2 separate regions of the Homo sapiens genome follow, and region 2 is linked to region 1. Evidence: fine-mapped expression QTL. Tissue or cell type: whole blood. Region 1 holds a variant in brackets; the other region holds the start of a gene. All regions are shown on one strand. Distances are from middle to middle.

Region 1 (2,847 bases):
TCTTACCTCCATGTTACTCCACGTTGATAGCTGTTGACTGATCAGGTTGATGATTGCTAAAGGTTGGGATGGCTGTGGCAGTTTCTTAAAATAAGACAACAAGGAAGTTTGTTGCATCAGTTAATGCTTGTTTTCAAGAAAGATTTCTCTGTAGCATGCAATGCTGTTTGATAGCATTTTACCCAAAGCAGAATTTATTTCAAAATTGGAACCAGTCCTCTTAAACCCTGCTGCTGCTCAAGTAAGTTTATGTAAACTCAAGTAAGTTTTTGTAATTTTCTAAATTGTTGGTGTCATTTCAACAGTATTCATAGCATCTTCACCAGGACTAGATTCCATCTCAAAAAAACCACTTTTTTTGCTTATCCATAAGAAGCATCTCTTTATCCATTAGTTTGATCATGAAATTACAGCAGTTGTCACATCTTCAGGCTCTACTTCTAATTCTAGTTCTCTTGCTGTTTCTACCACATCTAAGGTTACTTCTTCCTCCAAAGTCTCGAACCCCTCAAAGTTTTCCACGAGGGTTGGAATCACTGTCTTCCTAACTCCTGTTAATATTGATATTTTGACCTCTTCCCGTGAATCATAACTGTTCTTACTGGTACCTAGAATGGTGACTCCTTTCCAGGAGGTTTTCAGTTTACTTTGCCCAGATCCAGCAGAGAAATCAGTCTATGGCATTGATGGCTTTGTGAAATATATTTCTTTTTTTTTTTTTTTTTTTTTGAGACGGAGTCTCGCTCTGTCGCCCAGGCTGGAGTGCAGTGGCGGGATCTCGGCTCACTGCAAGCTCCGCCTCCCGGGTTCACGCCATTCTCCTGCCTCAGCCTCCCAAGTAGCTGGGACCACAGGCGCCCGCCACTACGCCCGGCTAATTTTTTGTATTTTTAGTAGAGACGGGGTTTCACCGTTTTAGCCGGGATGGTCTCGATCTCCTGACCTCGTGATCCGCCCGCCTCGGCCTCCCAAAGGAAATATATTTCTTAAATGAAAGACTGGCAAATCGAAAATACTCCTTGATCCATGGGAAGCAGAATGGATGTTGTTAGTAGACATTAAAACAACATTAACTTCTTTCTGCACCTCCATCAAAGCCCATGGGTGACCAGGTGCGTTGTCAATGAGCAGTAATATCTTCAAATCTTTTTTTCTGAGCAATAGGTCTTCACAGTGGGCTTAAAATACTTAGTAAACCATGCTGTAAACAGATGTGTGGTAGGCAGAGTAGATTTAGTATAATTCTTTTTTTAATTGTAATTTTTTTAATTGGAAAACAAATACACAACTTGGAATGGATTTGAGGCAAATTGTGCCATAAGCACATTTTCTTTAAGTGGCTAAACAAAGTTTAAAAAGCAAGTAACAGTAAAAGAAAATGTTTCTGGTACAGGACCAGCAGTACAGAAAAAACAGTGTGTGAGGTACCTGGGAGTACCTGGATAATACACCCATTCTGCAGTAGTGCAACTTTTAAGTACATATTGTTGGCTGTCCGTAGTCCACACAGAGTTACAACTCCATACTTCAACACCATGCTGACAGTTCCTAAAGAAAACTACTTTAAAAAAAGGCATAACCCGGATGTTCCCTTATTTGACCAACTCCACCTAAGTTTAGATGTGCAGAAGGGCTTA[G/T]ATATATCCGGAGTAAGCCACAGGCAACATGTTACTTCATCAGTTTTCTAAAATAAGGTTTCAGGGCAATGACAGTAAGGGAAGAACACATGGAGGAATGAAGTCCTGATTACCATACATGCATATTTTTTTTTGACAGTAGGGAGAAGCCTTTTACAGATAAGTTACAAACAAAAGGCAAATAAACAGTTTTGTGCAAGAAATTTAACACATTCTGTACAAGGTCTTCATTATGCTGTCATCATTTGTACAAACTCATAGTTTACTTGACCATCACCATCAGGATCTGCTTCCCTGATCATTTAATCAACTTCTTCATCTGTTAACTTCACTCCAAGGTTTGTCATCACATGGTGAAGTTCTACACCACTAATATAGCCATTGCCATCCTTATCAAACACACAGAATGTTTCTCTAATTTCTTCTTCACTGTCTGTGTCTTTCATTTTTCTTGCCATCATTGTCAGAAATTCAGGGAAGTCAATTGTGCCATTACCATCAGCATCTACTTCATTAATCATGTCCTGTAACTCTGCTTCTGTGGGATTCTGCCTGAGACCTCATTACAGTTCCTAGTTTCTTTGTTGTTATAGTTCCATCACCATCTTTGTCAAATAGTGAAAAAACTTCTTTGAATTCTACAATCTGCTCCTCAGTCAGTTGGTCAGCCATGCTGCAAGTGCTACTGGTTTCCGAGACGCAACCACACAACCACTCTGCTCGCTCACTTGCTCCACTTGGACTGATTTAGTGTCATTCTTCAGGGCCCTAGGATTTTCAAAATGGTAAATGAGTATGGGTCCTAGGATTTTCAGAATGGTAAATGAGTATGGGTCCTAGGATTTTCAGAATGGTAAATGAATATTGGCCTCAACGTAAAGTCACCTTGCATTAGCCCATAACAAGAGAGTCAGCTTGCCCCTTGAAGCTTTGAAGCCAAGCAATGACATCTCCCCTCTAGCTATGAAAGTCCTAGATGGCTTTTCAAATAGAAGGCTGTTTTGCCTACATTGAAAATGTGTTGTTTAGTGTAGCCACCCACCTTCATCAGTTATCTTGCTGCAGCTTCTACATCAGCACTTGCTTTTTTACCTCGTGTTTTTATTTTATTATTATTTTTTATCAGCAATAAGGCTGTTTCATTTTCTTGACGTTCATGGGTTTGCTGGAGTAGCACTTTTAATTTTCTTCAAGAACTTTTCCTTTGCAT
Region 2 (2,673 bases), 32 kb after region 1:
CTGGCAATACACTGCCTTCCAGGTCATTGTCCTGCCTGTGGGTCTTTGCACATCCAGACCACACTTCCTTCCTCTTTACCTAAATCTACCTCTTTCTCATCCTTGGAGAGAAGTATTTGCACCCTTCCTTTGCCCTCAGTCTTTCTTTTTTATTTTTTCATTTCATTTCATTTATTATTATTATTATTATTATTTTTTTTTTGAGACAGAATCTCACAGTCACCTAGGCTGGAGTGCAGTGGAATGATCATGGTTCACTGTAGCCTCAAACTCCTGGGCTCAAGCAATCCTCCCACCTCAGCTTCCCGAGAAGCTGGGACTACAGGTGTGCACCAACAAGCCCGGCTAATTTTTGTAGGTCTCGCTATGTTGCCCAGGCTGGTCTCCAACTCCTGGGCTCAAACGATCCTCCCGCCTTGGCCTCCCTAAGTGCTGGGACTGTAGGCATGAGCCACCGTGCCTGGCCATGCCCAATCTTTCTTACTGCAGTTGGTGATACATGGTTTTTGTTTTCTCTATACATGTATTTTTTGGTGGTGTGTTTAATATCTGTCTTTTCCCAGACTGTCGCCTCCGTGAAAGCAGGAACCTTGTCAGTTTTCTCTCCAAGTTATCCCTCCAACGCCTAGCACAGTGCCTGGCAAATGTAGGAGCTCAACAGGGTTTGCGGAATTATTATGTGTATGTCTGAAGGAAGGATGTTGGCAGTGCGCCCAACGTGTGAGGGGAACCCCACTCTCCAAGGTTCCAGTGGCTTTAAAGGTGTCCTCGAGAAAATCAGAGGAACAGGGGGATGCTTGTTTTCCTTCCTTCCTTCTCTCTCTCTCTCTCTCTCTCTCTCTCTCTCTCTCTCTCTCTCTCTCTCTCTCTCTCTTTTTTGCTTTAAAGTATGCTGAAAGGACACTTTAAACCAAGTCTGAATGGCTCGGCAGGACTGGGGCGCGGGTGCTGGCAGGAGCCGGAGAGGCGACATCTGGCCATGGGAGCATTTGTTTCAAAGTTCAAGGCCGTTCGCTCAGGGTCAAGGTTAGTCCGGCGGGCCGTTCGGAGACCAGCCCCAGCGTGCCAGGACCGTTTCCGGGGCCTGGCCGGGGCGTTGCCGCGGGGTCGGGGACCAGCACGAGTGCTGAGTCACGCCCCGCCCGGGAGCGCCTCGGGTCAGTAACTCGGGAAGACGACCAAGCGGGAGCGGGAGCGGGAGCGGGAGCCGGAGCGAGAGCGCGCGGGCGCGGCCGACAGGTGAGATCGCGCCGCCAGGCGGGCTCTCGAGACCCCGGGCGCCCCGGGCGGGACCGGGACCCGGAAGAGGGGCGAGCGGATTAGAGGCCTGGCTCACGCCGCGTCTGGCGTGGGGAGGTCGGTGCGCGCAGTTGTGGCGCTGCGAGGAGAGGGATACTCGACTCAGGCCCGCCCCTCTCTGTCTCCCCCAAAAAACGCAACAGGGAGATGTGCTCCTGGCCGAGGGCAAAGAAAACTCCACCCTCCTGGTTTGGCCCCTAAATCCCTGCTAAGTTTTCCTAAGGAAGATGGGCTTAGGCCGGGAAGGGCGAACCGGGGAAGAGGGAACACGGGGCGGGTGTAACCCGGATCTTGCGAGGACCGTCCGAGGGTCCGCTGGGTAGAAGCGGCCGGTCCGGACAGAAGCAGGTGTGAGAGGAAAGGGAGAAACCTCAGTCTCTAAGAGGAAAGAAACTGGAGTCAACCCAGTGCCCATAGGCTCGGGGGAGCTGGGGGGTGCAGCACTAGGAAGTCTGCTTCTCCCTTCCCGAAGCCCTGGGTGCTGCAGGGACAAAGACCAGCGGTGAGTAAACTAACTCTGATGGGACGCGTGCAGTCCACCTGGAACTGAATTAGTGGCCTATATTGGGGCTCTCCTTCCAACACCACCTGATCAACACACCCTACCTTTCCCTACAAGGAGAGTCTTTTTGACCCTGGAATTTAAGGTGAGGATGGGGAGTGGTGAGGTCTCTTGGGGGCTGATGATCCTGTAGGAGGACAGGCATAGGGCAGAGAGTCAGATATAGTTTGGGATGGGACTTGCAGGTTTCTGGACTGTGCACCTGTGTTCAAAAGCCTGTATCAGGTTCCAGTGTGCGTGCATGCACCTGCCAGAGAGCCCCGGGATCTCAGATCACACCTGCCCTCACCCCAGCACCTAGAGAGGAGTTCTCCAAGGAGCACAGTGTGTCACCAAGAAGAGGGCACTGAGCCCCAGCCAGGGTGGGCTGGGCAGGCTTAGCACTACCTAGCCCAGAAGTGATGGGCTGGGCAGGCCGGTGGACTCCAGGGCCAGCCTGACTTTTGTCTGGTGGCCAAATGAAGCCAGCGTCCAGGTACAGGTGGTGGGCAGACCATGGGGACCACAAAACTGGCTCTGAGGAGGATGGACAAATTGCTTGGCCTAGGTTTTCTGTGCGGGAGTGAATATGACATCCAGATGAACCTGTCTGCCCCAGAGCTGCCCTCCCCTGGGGATAAAAGGAGGCTGCCTCCCTTAGACTTTGAGTCCCTTTTCAGAAACTGGTCTTTTGGGGGTTCTGTTCTTCAAGTAGTCCCTGAGGGGCTGGCCATGGAGTGTCCCAGGAAGGGAGGCCGCCCAACCGTCTCCATCCTGCTGTGTCCCGCAGGTGGAGGAAACCTCCATGGTGCTGTGAGTCGTGCTGTAGTGGC

The links. PIP is the estimated chance that this variant, and not a neighbour inherited with it, causes the effect.
Region 2: AIFM2 starts here. The variant in region 1 is fine-mapped to the expression of AIFM2 in whole blood (TOPMed, PIP above 0.99).

The regions. Positions count from the first base shown.
Region 1 is chr10:70,163,147-70,165,993 of GRCh38, reverse strand. All of the region lies in intron 1 of SAR1A (secretion associated Ras related GTPase 1A), which reads left to right. It also overlaps the pseudogene CALM2P2. Among named protein-coding and RNA genes, the nearest start is that of SAR1A, 5.9 kb to the left of the region's middle. RefSeq lists an enhancer at 1,524-1,603. The variant G/T (reference allele first, on the strand shown) is at 1,638.
Region 2 is chr10:70,131,300-70,133,972 of GRCh38, reverse strand. AIFM2 (AIF family member 2) reads left to right here and starts at 1,148. Exons shown (of 9, transcript NM_032797.6): 1 at 1,148-1,239. RefSeq lists silencers at 974-1,293, 1,126-1,335 and an enhancer at 857-1,357.